2 separate regions of the Homo sapiens genome follow, and region 2 is linked to region 1. Evidence: fine-mapped expression QTL. A gene starts in region 1. The other region holds a variant in brackets. All regions are shown on one strand. Distances are from middle to middle.

Evidence for each region. PIP is the estimated chance that this variant, and not a neighbour inherited with it, causes the effect.
Region 2: its variant is fine-mapped to the expression of EGLN1 in prostate (GTEx, PIP above 0.99).

The regions. Positions count from the first base shown.
Region 1 is chr1:231,419,103-231,424,478 of GRCh38, forward strand. It overlaps EGLN1 (egl-9 family hypoxia inducible factor 1), which reads right to left and starts at 3,185. Exons shown (of 5, transcript NM_022051.3): 1 at 1,896-3,185. The coding sequence starts at 2,786. RefSeq lists an enhancer at 1,741-2,010 and silencers at 2,391-3,570, 3,326-3,650.
Region 2 is chr1:231,772,501-231,777,876 of GRCh38, forward strand. The region is part of intron 6 of DISC1 (DISC1 scaffold protein); the gene reads left to right. The region is part of intron 10 of TSNAX-DISC1 (TSNAX-DISC1 readthrough (NMD candidate)); the gene reads left to right. Among named protein-coding and RNA genes, the nearest start is that of DISC2, 43 kb to the right of the region's middle. The variant C/A (reference allele first, on the strand shown) is at 2,945.

The DNA of each region.
Region 1 (5,376 bases):
TTGCGTCCCTAAAATTAATATAAGCAGATCAAATCCAAAGAGTTTAAAGGTCATCCCTCCTTCATCCTGTCCCTTATTACCTGCTAATATGTACAGTTACGTGACTTAAAACCCCAACAACTAGAACTCTTGAGGAAGGAGGTACCTATTTCCTAATAGCATCTCTATGAGAAGCATTTGCTCTAAGAGCCAGGCTGTCTGCTGTCCCTTCTCTAAGGACAGGTGAAAGCAGGAAGACAAAAGAGAAAAGAGGTCTCAGCTTAACTTGGAAAGCTAAATTAACTAAGGAAAGCAGATCAAGAAAGATTTGGGACATCATCTTCTTCAAGAATCCAATTTAAGCTTATGTCCCAACTATATACTTTGGTCAGTCTTCACAGCCCTATTGTCTCAAACTAATTTCTTTCCTGCTCTGGAGCTCAGGACTTTATGTTCAGATGTGACAATTTCTTAAAGTTGTGCCCTGACAACTTTCTTAAAAATTTTATCAATGAAAATCTAGTGAAAGACCAACGCTGAAATTTCATCAGATCCCCCTTTTCCTTCCAGTTTAATATTATTCAACTGTTCCTTTTTAAGACTACAAGAAATTAAGACTTGTGCCTTCATCCAGCAATGAAGTGGCAATAGGTAAATTAGACTCCACATTGTATTTTTCCCCACAAAATGTTCACGTTTATAACTTTCTCACTGCCTATGTTCAGTCTTTCGGGCAGCCTGAGAATCACATGTAATGACTGTCAAAGTAGATGATCTGACACACACATACAGAAAAACCACTAGTTAGAGTCAGCGTGTGTGTACAAACATGCAACTGTGATGCTCTCCCAGGTCAATCTCTCAAAACCCACAAAATCAGAGACTGATGGTGGAGGAGGGTGGCCTGGGAGCAGCCACAAAGAAAAGATCAAGATCTGAGAAGTAAAATGAAAAAGAGCTGCAAGAGAGTTGGTTAAGGACGAAAGAGTCTACTGTTTATCATGAGGGAGGAAAGAGGGAATAGACTAGGTAAGAAGTGAAGAAATCTGTGGAGGAAAAACCGCAATAGTAAAGAGAAAACAAAAAGATCTCACCAAATTGGGAGGATAAAACGAGCCCTCCTGCGCCAATTCCGTGTTGTTGTTTTGTTTTGTTTTGTTTTCCAGGAAGTTACAAAACAGTTTTCAACAGAAGGATTACATTAACAAAGCAAATAAAGGAAACTGGTGCTAAAAATGTAGCCTACCTACACTGAGAGGCCTGAAGACGGAAATACTTCTTTCCCCTTTTTGTAACGGGTTTCAAAACAGTAGGAACAGGGTGAGGGATAAGAGCTATAACAGGGGGAGGGGAGTAGCCAAGCTCTTCCTGAATACAGAGTCTTTCGACTAAATGCTTATTTTAAATGTACCTTTTTGCGGTCAGCCGGCAAATTCCTAACTGAACACAGCGTTTGACTCTCAATCGAAATGTGATGAGTGGTTCAGACACCATAGGAAATTTAACAGCTTATGCAAACACAAGGCAGATGCAGAACCAGGACTTGCTTTGGGTGGTACTCTAACACCCCTTCACTGGGTGGCTAAAACGCCACTAAGGTTTGAATTGTGACCAATAGTGGAATGGAAAAAAGAAAATAGGAAAGTTAAAGCGCCTACGTTGAGTCAAAAAACCATGCAATTAGCCGGAGAAGTTTGTGAACGGGCAGTAAGTGGAAAACAGTGGATACAAAGGGGCTAACTAGATAAACAGCTACTACAAATTCTGTCCGTCTTCCTTACGGGGAGCTACACAAGAAAGAGCGAGTCCCTTCTATATAGAGGAATGCTGCTTCTCAGCCTAGGCAGTTTCAGTCGCAGGCAGGGGCTGCCCGCCGAGAAGGGCCTGTCCAGCACAAACCCGCAGCACACACTTACTTTCGTCCGGCCATTGATTTTGTAGCTGCCCAGCTTCCCGTTACAGTGGCGTATCAGGTCGTCCATGCTGCTCATGAGCAGCCCAATGGTTTCGCAGCCGGGCTCCTTGCCCTCGATCCAGGTGATCTTATCGCCTCGGATGTCCTTGGACGAGTCACTCTTCTGGCTGACCAGCTGCCCGTCCGTGAACTTCCCGGTGTCGTGCAGGGCGCGCACCTCGTCGCCGATCTGCTGTCCGGTCTCCTTGCCGAGGAAGTCGTCCACCACACAGATGCCGTGCTTGTTCATGCACGGCACGATGTACTCGAGCGCCAGCTTCAGCGCCGGCAGGGGCTTCGTCTGCCCGTTGGGCCGCAGGCCGCCGCCGGGGCTCAGCGCATCCCCGGGCGTGTTGCTTGGGGGGTACAGGTTCGCCTTCTCCTGGAACAGCGATGAGCGGGCCGGCGGCTCCTCCTTGCCGGGCTCGGCTTCGGCAGCCACCGCCGAGCCCTGGCCGCCGGCGGCCGCACGACACGGCGACGCGGCCGCCGCTGGGTCGGCCGGGGGCTTGGCCTTTACTTTTCCCTTGGCCGCGTCCCCGGAGGCGTTGTCCCGGCGCGCCGCTGCCTTCCTGGGCTCCCGGGCCCCGGCCCTGGGCGGCGGCACTGCAGCCGGCGGCGCGGGGCCGGAATGCTGGTGTGGGCCCACTCCGTGGCCGAGGGCGCCCTCGCTGCCCTGGCACACGAGCTTGTGCTTCTTCCAGTCCTGACGCTGGTGCTCCTTGCAGCAGTAGAAGGAGCTGCGGCAGCGGCTGCAGCGCAGCAGGTTCTCCATCTTCCCGCACAGCTCGCAGTACTGCCGGTCTCGCTCGCTCGGGCTCGGCCCGCCGGGCCCGCCGCTGTCATTGGCCATGGCGGCGGCGGCGGCGGCGACGGCGACTGCGGCGGCCGAGCAGGAGGGGTAGCGGCCGGACGGCCTCGCCCGAGGCTGGGGAGCGGGGAGAGAGATAGGGGCCGTTACTGCGCCATGCACCCGCTACCCTCGCCTCAGGGAGGCCGGCACCCCACGCCCTCGGCCCGGCCGCTTCCGAGTCCTAAGCTCCGGCGCAGCGCCGGCAGCCGCCTCAGCGCCTCATCGCCGCCGAGGGCTGAGAGAATAGGGCCTGTGCGGCGAATGGCAACCTGGGCTCAGGCGCGCGGGCCTGGGGAGCGCAAGACCGGCCCCCTCGGCCGCCGCCGCCGCCTCAGCGTCCCGGGCGGCCCGGCCCAGGCTGTGGAGGAGCGCAGGGCATACGGGCGCCACTCGCTCTGCGCGCTCTGCACGTACACCACGGCCCCGCGGCGACCCGGGCGGGCGGCGCGCGAGGGCGGAGGGGGCGGAGGGAGGGCCGGGAGGGCCGGGGGGAGGGCCGAGGGGCGGGGGCTGCCTGCGCTCCTCCGCACTCGGCGGGGCCGGGCCTCGGCTTCTGCCTCGGAGGTGGGTCGCCCGCTTTCCCTCCGCCCGGGACCGGACTGGGACGCCGAGAGGCCGGTGCGCTACCTCAGCCCGCAGCGGCCTCCTCGGGGACGCCGAGGCGCAGGCCCGCGAGCGGCGGAAAGGCGTGGGGCAGCGCGGCAGCGCCTACACCTGCTGGAGGAGGGCGCCAGCCGCAAGCGGGTAGCGGAGCGAAGGCGGCGTAATCATGGCTGCTCTTCCTCCAGGCCGGCGCGGGGTGTGCGAGGCTCGCTCCAGTCAAGGTTGCAAGGTGGCTATTGCGATCCTCATTTTGCAGAGGAGGAAACGGAAATTCAGAGAAGTAAAGTAACTTGCCCAAGGTCACGCAAAACTGGGACTGAATCCAGGAATCAGGCTCCCAGATTCCAAGGCTGTTTTTTCCATTACACCATACAGCCTCTATTTCAAGAAGCCCTGAAATGGTTAAGAACAAAATAAGTATTACTATGGTGTTAATCCAATCTCTTGCGCCCCGTTTCGACCTAGTTTAAAGGTAATGAAATTTGAGGGTTTTAAAAAAAATCAAAAACTCATTTTTAAAACCTTTGAAATCCCGCCGAGTTCAAAACCCCATGAAGAAATTTTGGGCTACCAAGTTAAATGTAATCAATGCTCATTCCAATATCCAATTTAAACTGATGGGATTATTCCTGAAAAGTGAATTTTGATGGTAAATGAGCAGTACTACATTAACGACTCTCACATTTATTTTTAATAGAATCTGTGCTGCGCGGATGAATACAATTCTTTGTTTTACAGAGCATAAAAACCTTACCAGAAATAAGCCAAAGATGTTTCTTTCTGCTGCTATTTGTCTTAAGAATTAAAAGGTCTGTGATTTCGAGTTTATCAATCTTTATCGAACACTATGTGGAAAGTGGGGTGCTAGGCTTGTGTATCACTTGAGTATACTGTAACTTCAGTCCTTGAAATATAGCCTTCCAAACTTAAAAAGTTGTAATATGTATTTCAAAAGCAGGATATAAGGAATTATTGTAAACCATATTGTAGAAGTTTAAAAAGAGGCTTGAATCCAAAAATATAAAACCTCTTCATCAAATATACAGAATTTAAAACTGTTATAAAATCCTGCTGCATGCGTAAATGGCATTCTGGGGATCCAATCAAGTGAAAGAGGATGATAATTCCAATTAGCTTGTCCTTTGGGAAACTGAGATAAATATACTCACATCTTCAAATTTCAAACCGAACTAAAAATCCAAGTTTCTGTAAAGAATTTAGACCTAGACCTGTCTTATGTGTATCCTACTTTCCCAGAGCTTTATTAAATACAGTAAAATGTCATTGTTGCAGACATTACTAATTAGGCTGTTCAACAAATGCATTGAGAGTCCTTGACAAACAAATGAATTAGTCATACTACACTCAGAGACACATAGTCCAATGCAGGAGGCAGGTATGTAAACAAGGACAATCCAGAGTTCAGAGTTTCCTAAAAGAGGGATGAATAGGATGGAATGGGAACACAGAAAAAGGAATTGCTAGCTCTGCCATTTGCACTAATAAAATCCAAGCAAATTAATTCAGAAATTCTTAAAATATAAAGGAGCTATCTCATGGCTTACGAAAATAAGCATTTAAAACATTTTTCATACACATAAATTATGTAAAATGTAATTTAAATACAAGTAGAGTCTAATACTTCTTAGGCTTCCTTTTGCTATAGTAATTATACATGAGGCTTAATTATTCACAAGAGCAGGAACTTTACTAGGAGGACTCATTCCACAAACACTTGATTCTTCCAACAATTTCTTTTAAATTTGCTATTTCAGTCTGTGGTGTGTCCACAAATTATTTACATCTCTATATGCTCTACTCATATATTTTCATTGAAGTTTACTTAAAAGAATAGATGTCCATATCAAAACCTTTATTAGCTTTCTTGTTCCAATTAAGTATACAAAATCACAAATTGAACATGTATATCCTAAATATACTTAATCCATCAAATAGAACACTTGCAACACTTTAATGAATACAACAG
Region 2 (5,376 bases), 350 kb after region 1:
AGTTGAAGGTTAACTCCTCACTCAACTCATTATTGGCCGATTTGAGGAAAGGGGTGTTGATAATAATTTCTACCTTATAGAGCTATCACATGGATGAACCGAGGTAGTACATAGAAAACTCTCAGCAGAGCCTGGATGGTACTAAGCACTTTATTGTGCTTCCAGTCGTCGTCTTTACAATGGAAATTTCAGTCTTCTGAAGGCCTTCAAACTACCCGTCCAAATATATCTTACTGTATTTAGTGAACGACTGTTCTGTCTTCCACATGTATCACATCCTATCCAGCCTATAAAAGCAAGCGGCACATGCTATTCTAGGGAGTTACTTAAGATCTCCTCCCATTCCCCTTCTATCCCGAATATTTCCAGGCAGAACTCTCCATGGCTCATGCCCATGGAGAGGGGGAAGAGATTTGGATTGTTGCCGGTTTTCATCCAAATGAAACGGGTCCCTTGAATACAGCTTGTTCTCTCCCACCTGCACTTTCAGAACCATTCTTCAGCTATTGCCTTGGTGTGGTGGGTAGGCTGTTATGTTCTCATTTTGCAACTGAGGAATCAAAAACTCAGAAAGTTTCCCTGATGATGTAGCTAGTAAGAGACCATCTTGTGTACAACTATGGCTGTCTTTGGGCCTGAATCAATAAAAGATGGTTTCCTTCCAGAGAGCCAAGGAAGCTATTTCTATGACTAATTCTCTTTCCTCATCTAAAACTAGGAGCTCCACAGTGTGGTTGGCTGATAGAACTGAGCCCAGGACTTGGTCTGGTTTTCTACCTGTATCCTCTGGTTTGCCTTTTAATCAGGATGAGTCACAGAGAAGGCATGAATGTGTGACTTTTACTGAGTAATCTAGTGCTTTGATAGGTTTTTATTTGTTTGTTTGTTTGTTTGTATGTTTTGAGATAGAGTCTCTCTCTGTCACCCAGGCTGGAGTGCAGTGGTGCGATCTCGGCTCACTGCAACCTCCGCCTCCCAGGTTCAAGCGATTTTCCTGCCTCAGCCTCCTGAGTAGCTGGGACTACAGGCTTGTGCCAGCACACCCAGCTAATTTTTTGTATTTTTAGTAGAGACAGGGTTTCACCATGTTAGCCAGGATGGTCTTAATTTCCTGACCTCATGATCTGCCCTCCTTGGCCTCCCAAAGTGCTGAGATTACAGGCGTGAGCCACTGCGCCCAGCCAATTGGATAGGTTCTTGAAAGGCATTTCAAAAGTTGTGGCTCTCTGATTTTATGATGCTGTTAGGGAAATTATATATGAGGATGATCTTGAACATGGGGCACTGCTGTCTGTGGGGTCCTCTGGGAGAATCCACCATCCCCAATCCGAACATTCCCACTGAGATTACAGAGGTCAGGTCAAGAACAGGCTGCCACGTTTTTGTGCTGAGGTGACTATAGGAAAACCTGGGTATCTCAAGGACTTTCAGAAACCATGAAGGCTTCATGTAGGAGGAGATCTTGGGAATGTAAGGATGAGGCTGGGAACAGTGGCTCACACCTATAATCCCAGCACTTTGGGAGGCCAAGGCGGGAAGAATGCTTGAGTCCAGGAATTTGACACCTAATCTCTACAAAAATAAAAAAATAAAAATAAAAAAAATTAGCCAGGCATGATTGAGTGTACTTGTAGTCCTAGCTACTCGGGAGGCTGAGGCAGGAAGGTTGCTCAAGCCCTGGAGTTCGAGATTACAGTGAACTATGATTGTGCCACTGCAGTCCAGCCAGGGCAACAGAGCAAGACCCTGACTCAAAGAAAAAAAAAAGGAATGTAAGGACGAAGAGTTTCATGGGAGGGTAGGAATAAACCAGAGCAGTTAAAAGGTACAAAAAACCTGGACAATCTAATGACTAGTTAATAACATGACCTTTTTCTCCTGCGATAAGGAAGTTATACAGGTGCCTGCAGCATGGAACACTCATGGTGAGCAGAGGCCATCAGCACTGGCTGGAGTTTTGTGTGGCTGGAGTGTGGCCACCCTGAGACATCCTCATTATCTGGGTGATTCTCAAGAGGTGATCCTTGGCATCAGTCTAATTTACTTTGAGGTGCAGGGAGGTATCGCCGCATCTGGAGGGCAGTGTGGGCTGTGTAGGTGCACACTTTGATTGGTCAGCTTCCTTTCTTCCACCGTAGGGAGGTGAGGCATCAGACTGCTCCCTGCCGTAACCATCAACTAGAGAAACCCGTCATCAATATTTGGGCTTTCCATTTGAGAAGGAAGATATGTCTTTTCCAAGCTGATGGGCTGCAGCATGGATCTGCAGAAGTGAAGCATTTGAAAGAAACCAGTGTAGAACCAGCTGGCTCAACAGGTCAGAGAGATTGCTTGGTCTAGTATTTTTAACTAATTGGACATGATCCTGTTAACCTAATTTTTGCTATGAAGTATTGGTTGTCTTTTAGAAAATGCTGACTTAGGGATAATATCCAGTAGGTATATTTAGCCAAATGAACCCATCTTACATACATCAATAGCTGCCTTCATTGTTCATGAGAATAGGCTCTTCTTAGGCCAGATGGAGAGAGCCAGACAAATTGTGAAACAGGAAAACCTTGAAGTCTTATAAAGAGAAGTTGCAGAGACTAGTATTGTTACAAAACCTAGAGAAACAGATCACTCAACATCACGACTGTTATCATCATCTATAAGGATTTTCATAGAGGCCAGATACAAACTCAGGGTGCTGTCTGTTTGTAATTTACTCAACTTTCTAACATGCAATTGCAATATGCTTTGTTTCGTGGACAACGACCCAACAACTTGAAAAGAAACTTCCTAATAGCATGTGACATTTCTGGATGTATCACTGGTGGAGACTTACGTGCTTACATGGAGGCCATCGTTTCTGACTGTGGCTTGTTGGGAACCCCCTGGCCAATGTCAGAGATGGGCTGGAAGTAGAGGGCATGTGCTGGGGTCAAGGACACCCAGTGATTTT[C/A]GGTTTGGGTGTGATAACAGAAATCAAAGAAGCCATTTGAATTTTCCAATGTCTGTGTTCTGGATCAAATAACTTAGCAGGAGGAGATGAAGTGTTACCATCCCAGAGACATCATAGACACTTTTTGAGTAGAGCCAACAAAAATGGTTTTCTTCCAGTGAACAAAAGGAGAACCCTTTTTAAGCACTGGAGAATGAGGAGCTCCACAGTATGGAAGCTGACAGAGCAGGGGTGCATGAAAGGACAGGAACCACTTAAAAGATATGTTCATTTGAATTTCTCTCATCCCTGGGATTTCAACCCCCCTGCTTTAAAACAAGTGCCTTGTTTTCTCCTGCAAGTCTTCCTTTGATGTGAGGGTCTTAGAAGAACCACTTTTACCCAGTGAGCTTGGTTCTTCTCCCACACGAAACCCATGGTTCTTGTTCTACCCCCTGCTGACTGCATTCCCATTCTCTGTAATGGGATTGTGATGTGGGGGTGGGGGAGGGAGGAGAGGGAAAAGATGGGGGACACAGGGAGGAGGTGACAGTGTCCAAGATTTTCTGTGGATCACATCCCTCCATGTGGGCATGAGGTTCCATCTATTTATTTGGCGTAAATTGAGGAGAATGGTGATTTGCAGCTCCTCTCTGTCTAGCACCATTAGCTCAGCCTCCCCTGGCTTCTTGTTGGTTTTATGTGTCTGGAAAACCAGGGGAGGGCAGCCTGTGACCTCATGTAGCATGCATATGGCTAACGGCAAAGTGAGGGAGGAATAATTATAGTAATAATCACAGTGATGACGTGGAGGGCTGCCTAGGATGCTTTCTAACATTCTTTAGAAATGCTTGACTGGCTTGTATTCATCTGGGGTTGAGTTCTTCATTCCTCAGCTCCTCGGATTTTTCATGCTTCATGTGAAATGTGTTCTGGCAGCTCATGGATGAATTGTCGCTTGTTGTGCATTTGGAAGAAACATGTCACATCTTTTGCAAACCATTGGCACAAAGTGTGAAACAAACTCAACCCCTGGTTACAGGAGGGCTGGCTGGGCCTTGGTTGGAGAGTCTGGGAGCCTCGCGGCAGGGCTGGGCTGGGGAGGCTCGCGGGTGGAGAGGAGCCAGGCCTTCTGCAGTATCCATGCCCCCAGCCACTAGCTAAACTGCCCAGGGCTCCCTGGCGGGGGGCACTGATTATGCAGGGTGCTGCAGGCATCCTCATCACACCTGTGCTCAGTCCACAACATGCAGTCCCTGCTGATGTCAGTCCTCCTTGCAAGTGAGATTTGAAATAATGTAATTCACCAGCTCACAACTGAATGGGAAAAAAAAATCAATAGTTCCTCTTTTCCCTCAGAAACATATCTTATTAGAGTGAGGAGACAGTGAAACAGCAAGGCCTGAATTGGAAAACTGATCCTGAATCTAGGATCCTGGTAGAGATTCTCAAAGAGGGTTGCGTGGAAGCAGCTGTGTGGGAGGGGTCCCATTAATGCTCTTGCCCCGGGGGTAGTGCGAGGCAGCCACCAAACTGGAGTCACGCACAGACTGCAGAGAATATCCCTGCAGCATATCAGCAGTCTCCAAGCTGCTTTTCCATTCGTGAAGATTGTTGTTCTTTAATCTCCACTTCTGGGCTTTGTCTTTCTCTCTCCTCTGTCTTTGCCTTCTACCTGACTGGTTTGCCAAGACAATGGCTTTATGGGACTGAGAGCATTAGACATCATCTGGAGAAAGAGGAGAGCTTTGCATTTTTCTAGGAAATTCTGATTTTCCCCCTCTTTTTTTTGGTAAGGACTTTTCTCTCTTTTTTAGAGATGGGGTTTCCCTCTGTCCCACAGGCTGGAGTACAGTGGTATGATCATGGCTCATTGCAGCATTTTACTCCTGAGCTCAAGTGATCCTCCTGCCTCAGCCTTCCAAGTGCTAGGATTATAGGTGCATGTCACCATGCCAGGCTAATTTTTTAATTTTTTATAGAGATGGGGGTCTTGCTATGTTGCCAGGTTAGACTTGAACTCCTGTCCTCAAGTGATCTTTCCACCTCAGCCTCCTGGGTCACTGGGATTACAGGGTTTTCTTTTCCCCCTACTCCCCTTTTTAAGTAAAGTAGACATCTTGCTTTTCTCAGGAATTCATGAGGCAGAAAAATATTTGCCAAGACAGCAAATGCAGTGAGACAGAAGTGTGTGAGCAATGCTGGCCAGATGGGTGCCCGGAGTGAGGCTTCCCTGCATAGGCGACATCTGCAGCATTCAGGACCTCCCTGCAGGTGTGCCCTCTCCACTCAAATTTATCCTGTCTGTCCTTCTTAGTTAGACTGGTGTTGATACTCATACACTAATTTTAATATCTCTGTTATTTACAAACTGTCATACTTGCTTACAATAACCCTATAAGGTTTGTTGGGCAATATATTGTTTTTATGCCCATTTTGCAGATGAGGCTGCT